Linked DNA regions of Homo sapiens: region 2 is linked to region 1. The links come from fine-mapping of genetic effects on gene expression. A gene starts in region 1. The other region holds a variant in brackets. All regions are shown on one strand. Distances are from middle to middle. Region 1 holds the start of COPZ2 (coat protein complex I subunit zeta 2). Region 2 overlaps CBX1 (chromobox 1).

What was found. PIP is the estimated chance that this variant, and not a neighbour inherited with it, causes the effect. A credible set is the group of variants that fine-mapping cannot tell apart.
Region 2: its variant is the best candidate, but not a certain one, in a credible set for the expression of COPZ2 in blood mononuclear cells (TOPMed, PIP 0.71).

Annotation. Positions count from the first base shown.
Region 1 is chr17:48,034,436-48,039,806 of GRCh38, reverse strand. COPZ2 (coat protein complex I subunit zeta 2) reads left to right here and starts at 2,010. Exons shown (of 9, transcript NM_016429.4): 1 at 2,010-2,140; 2 at 2,882-2,956. The coding sequence starts at 2,030. It overlaps MIR152 (microRNA 152), which reads left to right and starts at 2,560; the gene lies at 2,560-2,646. RefSeq lists an enhancer at 844-893.
Region 2 is chr17:48,083,919-48,089,289 of GRCh38, reverse strand. The region is part of intron 1 of CBX1 (chromobox 1); the gene reads left to right. It also overlaps the pseudogene RNU6-1201P. Among named protein-coding and RNA genes, the nearest start is that of CBX1, 15 kb to the left of the region's middle. The variant C/T (reference allele first, on the strand shown) is at 2,785.

The DNA.
Region 1 (5,371 bases):
ATCACACCACTGTACTCCAGCCTGGGTGATAGAGCAAGACCCTGTCTCAAAACAAAAAAACAAACAAACAAAAAGTCACATTCATTGGTTCTTGCAGGGCTCAAAGTCTGGGCGGGGAGAAGGAACACTTATAAACAAACTAGTAAAGGCTGGGAATGGTGGTTCACGCCTGTATCCCAACACTTTGGGAGGCTGAGGTGGGAGGATCACTTGAGCCTAGGCGTTCAAGACCAGCCTGGGCAACATAGTGAGACCTTGATCATGATCACCCTCCTCCCCCTCCTCCTCCTCTTCCTTTCTTTTTCTCTTCTTCTTCTTCTTCTTTTTTTTTTTTTTGAAACAGATTCTCACTCCCATTGCCCAGGCTGGAGCACAGTGGCATGATCATGGCTCTGCAGCCTTGAACCCCCAGACTCGGGTGATTCTCCCACCTCAGCCTTCTGAGTAGCTGGGACTACAGGTCACACCACCCTACCTGGCTAATTTCTTTGTAGTTTTAGTAGAGACTAGATCTTACCATGTTGCCCAGGCTGGTCTGGAACTCCTGGGCTCAAGCCTTCTGCCCACCTCAGCCTCCCAAAGTGCTGGGATTACAGATGTGAGCCATTGAGCCCAGACTTGAGACCTTGTTTCTACAAAAATAAAAAAAATAAAAAAATAAAAAATTACCTGGGAGTGGTTGCATGCACCAGTGGTCCCAGCTACTCGGGAGACTGAGATGGGAGGATTGCCTGAGCCCAGGAGGTTGAGGCTGCAGTGAGCCCAGATCGAGTCACTGCACTCCAGCCTGGGCAACAGAGTGAGACCGTGTCTCAAACAAGCAATATTAGTAAAAATAATATTTAGAGATTGAAAAAAGTGCAATGAAAGAAAGAAATAGGAACTGAGAGAATGTGACAGGAGAGACCTATCAAGTCAGATATGGTGGCTGTCAGGAGGACCTTTTGGTAATTATATTTCAGCAGAGGCTTGAAGATAAGAAGACTTGATGCATTCAGTGAGGAAAACCCCATTCTGTAACCATCTAGGGTAAGTGACTGTGGTCCACAACATAAGAGGGCTTGAAGAGAAGAATAGGGAAGAAATTTTGAGTCAAAAATCTGGGTTCTATCCCCAGTCAACTAGCTGTATAGTCTTGAAAAGGTCACACAACCTCTGAGTCTCTCTTTGCTTAAAATGAGGGTCCATTATGCCTATCTTACAGGTGTGGGCTATATTAGATAATGGATGTGAAGGTGTCAAATGTAAAATACACGCACAGTGTTTTTACCGGTAAATGCATACGTAGCACTAACATATCACTGGGATGTGAATTTCCCACTTGCCAGTGTACCCTGAAATGAGAGCTTGTCTTAGTTAGACTTAGACCAAAGAAACCAAAACATGCTGCAAAGCCCGATGTCATTGGTGGAGCATTTGTGCTGCTGGGCGTCTGTCTTGCTTCTGATGGTGCCATATCTGTGACTTAGGAGAGCCTGGGGAGGTGTCTCCGGGCCCATGGTTGCCTTCTGCAAGTAGTGAGAGAGGAATGAGAAAGCCTCTTCACAGAGGGGTGTCCCCAGAACTGTCCTCATTTGCTCTTGCTTATAGACCCTGTCCCTGAGATCTAAAGGGTGACCTGACGTATTTGTCCTCATGGTACCTACCAGAGGTCAACAGACAAAAGTGGGCTTTGCTTGTGTTTGCTGCTGGCCCCAGGACAGCCTATAGACACTGGCGCACACCAAAGCCACAGGCCGGAGAGCAGGCAGGAAGCAGGACGAGGGCTGGTCTTGGGGCACCCTGAGGATGCAGAGTTCGGGGATGTAAGGGACTCGGGAAGGAGCCAAGGAGGAGAGAGGGAGAGGAGAAGTGGGGGAAGGAGAGGTGGGGTGAGGGCGGGAGGGGAGATGGGGGAGAACGAGCAAGAGGACGGGGCCCCGAGGAAAGGGAGGCCACGCGCGAGAGGGGGCCGCGGGGCGGCGCGGAGGCGGGGCGGCGGCGGCGGGCAGGCGGCGGGCGGCGCTGTCAGTGCGAGGCGGCGAGCGGAATGCAGCGGCCCGAGGCCTGGCCACGTCCGCACCCGGGGGAGGGGGCCGCGGCGGCCCAGGCCGGGGGCCCGGCGCCGCCTGCTCGAGCCGGGGAGCCCTCGGGGCTGCGGGTACGGAGCGGGCGGGCGCGGGGATCCCGGGCGGCGGGAGCTGGGCAGGGACAGAGCAGGGTTAGGGGGAGCAGCCAACTCAGAACTCGCGCGCCCGGCGGCTGGGAACTTTGTGTCACCCCTGACTGGCCCCAGGACCCGGGAGGAAAAGTTCGTCCCAGCGCCGACCGGAGAGGAGGCCTGTCCTGAGTCCGTCGGCGCGGGGCTGAAGTTCTGGGTCCGTTTGGAGTGGGGGTGGCGGGTGAGTTGCGATTCCGCGGGGAGGGTAAGGAGTGGCCTGTCCGTCCCAGACTCGGCTCCCATCACCGGTGGGTGATGGGCATGCTTCTGGAGTCTACCCGGGCCAGGGCCTGGGGGCGCGCTGATAGCGCAGGTCCAGCCCGGCCAGGGATCAGCTGGAAGAAGGAGGCTCGGCCCGCTGTCCCCCCCGGCCCAGGTTCTGTGATACACTCCGACTCGGGCTCTGGAGCAGTCAGTGCATGACAGAACTTGGGCCCGGAAGGACCTTCTGCACCCAACGGGCACAGCGCCCACTCGGGGCCTGCAGTGGAACATCTGCCTGGGAGTGGAGTGGGCACCTGGGTTGGCCCATGTGGCACAGGGCTGGGCAGAACCAGCTGTGGACCTTGAGGACTGGGGTTGCTGGGGCCTGAGGATGTATCCTAGGGCCAGCAGATCCCATAGACACAGGGTGTCCACCTCGAGTCAGGGGCCAAACGGAACTCTCCTCTCCGGTGTCAGTTGCAGGAACCTTCCCTCTACACCATCAAGGCTGTTTTCATCCTAGATAATGACGGGCGCCGGCTGCTGGCCAAGGTAACCTCTGACCCCACCCATGAGGGACACAGTTCCCACTCAGCTGACACTCCTGTCTCAGGAGAAACTCCACTGTGATCTCTGTGACTCAGGGCAGCTCAGCTTAGACCCCTCCAGAGGTCCTTCTCATCCTCCTGCCTTGTCAAGGTGCTGCTCCCTGAAATGAGGGGTCTCCTCTATTTCTACTCATGTTCCCTGAAATGTTTCCTTATCATCCTGCTACTGGCCAGTTGGACCTGGGCATGGGAAGGTTCTGCCTAATGGGTCAGTGGAGTGTTGAGCCTGGGACCCAGGAGTCTTAGTCCCCAAACCCCCACACAAGTTCTTTTGTTCTTTGGGGTTTGTCTCTAAACCTCCACTTTTGTTCTACAGCTTGGTAAACACTAACGATTTAGTCTAAGGAGTCTAAGGATTTAGAACCAGATGGGATTTTAGAAACTGTATAATCCAACTCTTTAATTTCGTAGATGAAGAAAATGAGGGGTAGAGAAGCTAAGTGAGTTGCCTGAGGTCACAAGTATTAATATCCTAACAGATCCAAACTCAAATTTTATTTATTTACTTATTTAATTTTTTCACTTCTCCCATTTCACAGGTTTCACAGGCAAACTCGGGTTTTTTGACATGAAGCTCAAGGTGGTTTTCACTGTACCCCCATTCAATTAGCTGTTATCTATCCTAGCAAACATGGCCTGAGCGAACCAAACTAAAATAATCCAAAAATAAATTTCTGCTGTCAACACAATTAATTGTAGGGGAGCTATAGCATCTGCATTAGCTATGAAATGCATTATAAGGCCAGGTGTGATGGCTCATGCCTGTAATCCCAGCACTTTGGGAGGCCAAGGCGGGCAGATCACTTGAGGTCAGGAGTTCGAAACCAGCCTGGACAACATGGTGAAACCCTGTCTCTACTAAAAATACAAAGAATTAGCCAGGCATGGTGGTGGGCGCCTGTAATCCCAGCTACTCGAGAGGCTGAGGCAGGAGAATTGCTTGAACCTGGGAGGCAGAGGTTGCAGTGAGCCGAGATCACACCATTGCACTCCAGCCTGGGCAACAAGAGCGAAACTCTGTCTCAAAAAAAAAAAAAAAAAGAAAAGAAAAAGAAAAGAAATGTGTTGTAAGGCCAGGCGCAGTGGCTGATGCCTGTAATCCCAGTACTTTGGGAGGCCGAGGCGGGTGGACTGCTTGAGCCCAGGAGTGCCAGACCAGCCTGGGCAACATGGCACACCCCATCTCTACAAAAAACAAAACAAAACAAAAACAAAAAACAAAAAAACGAAAATTAGCCGGGCGTGGTGGTGTGTGCCTGTAGTCCCACCTACTCGGGAGGCTGAAGTGGGAGGATTGCCTGAGCCCGAGAGGTTGAGGCTGCAGTGAGCCATGATCGAGCTACTGCACTCCAATCTGGGTTATAGAGTGAGACCCCATCCCAAAAAATAGATTTTCTGTTTGTTTATTTGGAACTGAAAGTTTTTTGTTTTTATGAAATTCAAATAAGCAGCGGCCACTAGGGAGATGGCTAATCTGCCTGCGGATTGAGTATTAAGTGGCAAAATCCACATCCAGAAAATTGAAAACTGAGCTGACCACACCTTGCCCCAGCAGATGGTCAGAGGTGGATCAGCAAGGCCAAAGGCTTTTCCTCCCTACAGATTAAGAAACTGAGTCAGAGAGAGAGGCTCACCATTCCCAAACAAAAAACATTAATTTAGTTATGGGATATGTGTGAGGAATTGTTTCTTAGATATTTAATCTTCACTATAACCCTGTCTGCAGTCAGACCGTCCTTAGTGGTCAAACCCAGCTTTGGCCTCACAACTGTGAGATGTTGGGGAAGTTACCTGACTTCTTTTTTTTTTGAGACGGAGTCTCCCTCTGCTGCCCACGCTGAAGTTCAGTGGCGCGATCTCAGCTCACTGCAACCTCCGCCTCCCGGGTTCAAGCGATTCTCCTGCCTCACCCTCCCAAGTAGCTGGGATTACAGGCACCCGCCACCATGCCCAGCTAATTTATTTTGTATAATTAGTAGAGATGGGGTTTCACCATGTTGGCAAAGCTGGTCTGGAACGCCTGACCTCAGGTGATCCACCCGCCTCGGCCTCCCAAAGTGCTGAGATTACAGGCATGAGCCACCATGCCAGGCCATTACCTGACTTCTTGATGCCTCGGTTTCCCCATCCGTGTAATGGGGATAATAAAGTAGCTGTTGTTATTATCATTATTATTGTTTAAGAAGGACTCCTGGTTTTGCCGTCTTTCCTGTAGAGACTCAGGGTGCTGTAGAATTAGTGTGCCCTCGTGACCATGCCAATCCTTAGCACCCTGCACATCTGCTGAATGTACAAGATCCTCCAAGAAACCAGGAGGGGACTCCAAAAGCAGGCCTCAATATCCCTCTACTTTTTGGGA
Region 2 (5,371 bases), 49 kb before region 1:
CTCTACTAAAAATACAAAAAAATTAGCCGGGCGTGGTGGCAGGCACATGTAGTCCCAGCTACTGGGGAGGCTGAGGCAGGAGAATGGCGTGAACCTGGGAGGTGGAGCTTTCAGTGAGCCGAGATCACACCACTGCACTCCAGCCTGGGCGACTGAGTGAGACTCTGTCTCAAAAAAAAAAAAAAAAGATGCAGATGCCAGCTTTTAAAATTGAGCTATGAATTAATTACTCTTGATTCAGATTTATGCTGTTCCTGGATTCCTTGGGATACTATAAACAAGTTTTGGGGTTTTTTGTTTTGTTTTGTGTTTTATTGAGACAGTCTTGCTGTGTCGCCCAGGCTGGAGTGCAGTGGTGTGATTTTGGCTCGCTGCCAATGTCAAAACAGCATTCTTCATTATAATAAAGGAAACCATACAATGGAATACTATGGCAGCTGTTAGGGATGGAGATCTTTATGGAATAATGTCAAAGATACATTGCATTGTATAAAATGGTAAACTGGTGCTTGCTTAAGCAGCACATGTACTAAAATTGGAACGATACAGAGAAGATTAGCATGGCCCCTATGCAAAGACGACACACAAATTCATGAAGCAGTCCATATTTTTAAGTATTTTTTTAAAAAAATCAAAAGTAAGAAATTTTTATTTATTTATTTATTTATTTTGAGATGGAGTCTCGCTTTGTCGCCCAGGCTGGAGTGCAGTGGCGTGATCTTGGCTCACTGCAACATCCGCCTCCCGGGTTCAAGCGATTTTCCTGCCTCAGCCTCCTGAATAGCTGGGATTACAGGCATGCGCCACCACGCCCGGCTAATTTTTGTATTTTTAGTAGAGATGGGGTTTCACCATGTTGGTCAGGCTGGTCTCGAACTCCTGACCTCGTGATCCACCCACCTCGACCTCCCAAAGTGCTGGGATTATAGGCGTGAGCCACCGCACCTGGCAACAAGAAAAATAAATTTTTTTTTTTTTTCAGACGGAGGCTCACACTGTCTCCCAGGCTGGAGTGCAGTGGCGCGATCTTGGCACACTGTAACCTCCACCTCCCAGGTTGTAGCAATTCTTCTGCCTCTGCCTCCCAAGTAGCTAGGATTACAGGCGCCTGCCACCACGCCCAGGTAATTTTTTGTATTTTTAGTAGAGATGGGGGTTTCACTATGTTGGCCAGGCTGGTCTCAAACTCCTGACCTTGTGATCCGCCCGCCTTGGCCTTCCAAAGTTCTGGGATTACAGGCGTGAGCCACTGCGCCTGGCCACGTTATATATTTTTGTAATTGAATGTTAATATATGATTTTAATTAGAAAAAATTAACTGCTTTAAAAACACCACTTCCTCATGTATTCGCTGTGGAGTGGGGTCTAGGCATCTGTATTTCTTCTTTTTTCTGTTTTCTTTTTTTTTTTTTTTTTTGAGACTGAGTCTCGCTCTGTTGCCAGGCTCTGGAGTGCAGTGGTACAATCTCAGCTCACTGCAACCTCTGATTCCCCGGTTCAAGTGATTCTCCTGCCTCAGCCTCCCAAGTAGCTAGGACTACATGCGTGTGCCACTATGCCCGGCCAATTTTTGTGTTTTTACTAGAGACAGGGTTTTGCCATGTTGGCCAGGAAGGTCTCGATCTCATGACCTAGTGATCTGCCTGCCTTGACCTCCCAAAGTGTTGGGGTTACAGGCATGAGCCACTGCGCCCAGCCTTTTTTTAAATTTTTTTTGAGATGGAGTCTCACTCTGTTGCCCAGGCTGGAGTGCAATGGCATGATCTTGGCTTACTGCAACCTCCGCCTCCCGGGTTCAAGCTATTCTCCTGCCTCAGCCTCCTGAGTAGCTGGGATTACAGGTGCACACCACCACGCCCAGCTAATTTTTGTATTTTTAGTAGAGACTGGGGTTTCACCATGTTGGCCAGGCCGATCTCAACTCCTGACCTCGTGATCCACCCACCTCGCCTCCCAAAGTGGTGGGATTACAGGCGTGAGCTATCACACCCAGGCAGGCATCTGTATTTCTAAACTCCATAGGTGATTCTGATTCTCATAGAGGTGAAGGTTCTTGACTCAGAGTTCGCTTTCCTCTGAATTCTTTTCTTTTTTTTTTTTTGAGATGGCGTCTTACTCTGTTGCCCAGGCTAGAGTGCAATGGTGCGATCTGGGCTCACTGCAACCTCTGCTTCCCAGGTTCAACTGATTCTCCTGCCTCAGCCTCCTGAGTAGCTGGGACTACAGGCACCCGCCACCACGCCCAGCTAATTTTTTGTATTTTTAGTAGAGATGGGGTTTCACCATGTTAGCCAGGATGGTCTTGATCTCCTGACCTTGTGATCTGCCCACCTCTGCCTCCCAAAGTGCTGGAATTACAGGCGTGAGCCACCGCGCCCGGCCATTTTTGTTTATTTATTGTTTTTTTCTTTTTCGTTTTCTTTTTTTTGAGACGAAGTCTCACTCTATAGCCCAGGCTGGAGTGCAGTGGTGTGATCTAGGCTCAAGGCAGCCTCCGCCTTCTGGGTTGAAGTCAAGTGATTCTCCTGCCTCAGGCTCCCAAGTAGCTGTGATTACAGATGTGCACGACCACGCCCAGCTAATTTTTGTATTTTTTAGTAGAGACAGGGTTTCACCATGTTGGCCAGGCTGGTCTCAAACTCCTGATCTCAGGTAATTTGCCTGCCTCAGCCTCCCAAAGTGCTGGGATTACAGGTGTGAGCCATCATGCCCAGCCCTGACCAACATTTTAAATGCCTCACCTTGGCATTTAGCTAGAAACCCTACTGGTTTAGTTTCTTAGGT[C/T]TGTAGGTGTTACCATGGCCTCACATTTATAATTTGGTTTTTCAAACTGGCAAGAAATCAGAATCGTGGAAGTTCCTAGCATAGCACTTCATAGTTCATGTTTATGGTGGCAGCCAAGAGCTGTGGCCATACTGGCTTCTTGAAGCCTTCTCGTACCCTTTCACAGTACAAACTATTTCAAACCAAAATGAAATGCCTAAGCTTGTGTCTGTTATGTTACTGCCTTCTGCAGTCAAGTAGCATTGTTGCTTCTTTACATTTTCTAGCTCCTCAGTGCAGGGGTGGAGGGTGGGTGAGGAAAATCACAACAGTACTCTTTCTCTTAAAATTGAGCTATGAATTAATTACTCTTGATTCAGATTTACACTGTTCCTGGATTCCTTGGGACACTGTAAACAAGTTTTGGGTTTTTTTTGTTTTGTTTTGTTTTTTATTGAGACAGAGTCTCGCTGTGTCACCCAGGCTGGAGTGCAGTGGCGTGATTTTGGCTCACTGCCAATGTCTGCCGCCTGAGTTCAAGCAATTCTCATGCCTTAATCTCTCGAGTAACTGGGACTACAGGTGCATGCCACCGTGACCAGCCTATTTTTTTTGTATTTTTAGTAGAGACGAGGTTTCGCCACGTTGGCCAGGTTTTTCTTGAACTCCTGACCTTAGGTGATTCTGCCCTCCTCAGCCTCCCAGAGTGCTGGGATTATAGGCGTGAGCCACCGCGCCTGGCCTGGTTTCTTAAAATTGACATTTTCTCAGTAGTTCTCTCTCTAGTCTGCTTGCTAGATGTTTAACTTAAAAAATTCTACACTATGTAGCACTTGTCAATTTAAAAGACTCAAAAGACTGCTGGGGCATTAAAAACCCAGCTTTGTTTCTGTCTGCAGGTTTAATAAACAATGAATACCTTCATATTCCAGAAACCAATTAAAAATCATTGTTTTTTTTTTTTTAACAGAGCCATACCTTTCAAGGTCTTTTCTGAGAAAAATCATTACCAGTCACTTTCTTATTTACCAGTGACAAATTGTAGGGAGGAGTCATCTTAAGAGACCTCTGTGTCCTTTCCTTATACAGGCTGGAGGGATGTTACCCTGTAGGTTTTTGGCTAGCTGCTAGTTTTATGTGTTCAACAGGGCATTTAGCCTAGCCTTGCTAGATGGCCTTACTGAAGTGCAGTGCTTCGTTTAATTGTGTGACCTTAGGTGATCTATTTCATCTAAATTTGGTCTATTTGTGAGGCAGAGATAACATCTGAATGGCTTATCTCACAGGATGGTTTTGAAGATTAAATGAGATAATGTGGTAGCACTTTGTAAACTGTAAAGTATAATGCAAATGTAAAGTATTATTTTTCTAGGAATCTTCAAATGTAGCAGACTCAGCAAATGTTTAGGTAAAAATTATGGCAATGCTAGATTTCTTTGTTTACAATATTGTGATATAAACCATACGAGTTGGCTAAGTAGGACAACTGAGGATCTCAAACTGAGGTTTGAGTACATACTGTAAAACCATACTCCCCTATTTGTAGTCCAGTCAACTCAGTTACTAGCTTCAACTAGTAACTCTTGAGAGTATTGGTTTTTTTTTGTTTTTTTTTGTGAGACGGAGTCTCGCTCTGTCGCCCAGGCTGGAGTGCAGTGGCGCGATCTCGGCTCACTGCAAGCTCCGTCTCCTGGGTTCACACCATTCTCCTGCCTCAGCCTCCCAAGTAGCTGGGACTACAGGTGCCCGCCATCACGCCCAGCTAATTTTTTGTACATTTAGTAGAGACGGGGTTTCACCATGTTAGCCAGGATGGTCTCGATCTCCTGACCTCATGATCCACCCACCTCAGCCTCCCAAAGTGCTGGGATTACAGGCGTGAGCCACCATGCCCGGCCGGGAGTATTGTAAATAATAAATGAGTAGGCAGGGCGCCATGGTTCATGCCTGTAATCCCAACACTTGGGGAGGCCAAAGCGAGAGAATTGTGTGAGGCCAGGAGTTTAACAGAAGCTTGGCGCCCGGCACAGTGGCTCACGCCTGTTATCCCAGCACTTTGGGAGGCTGAGGCGGGTGGATCACGAGGTCAGGAGTTGGAGACCAGGCTGAGCAACATGGCGACCTGTCTCTACTAAAAATACAAAAATTAGCTGGGTGTGGTGGCACGCACCTGTAATCCCAGCTACTCAGGAGGCTGAGGCAGGAGAATCGCTTGAACTCTGGAGGCGGAGGTTCAGTGAGCATGATGATTAGCACCACTGCACTCCAGCCTGGGTAACAGAGCAAGACTCCGTCTCAAAAAAAAAAAAAAAAAAAAAAAAAAAGGAAAGAAAGAGAAGCCTGAACAACATAGGAACACCTTGTCTCCACCAGAAAAAATTGAAAAAATTAGCCAGGTTTGGTGGTACAAGCCTGTAGTCCCAGCTACTTGGGAGGATGGCTTGAGCCCAGGAGGTCGAGGCTGCAGTGAGTTATGATCAGGCCACCGTACTGGGCAACAGAGCGACACCCTGTGTCTAAACAAAATTTTTTAAATAAATGAGTAAAGTGTTTGTAATAGTACCTGGCACATAATAAGCACTCACTATTATTAGATACTTCAGTGAAA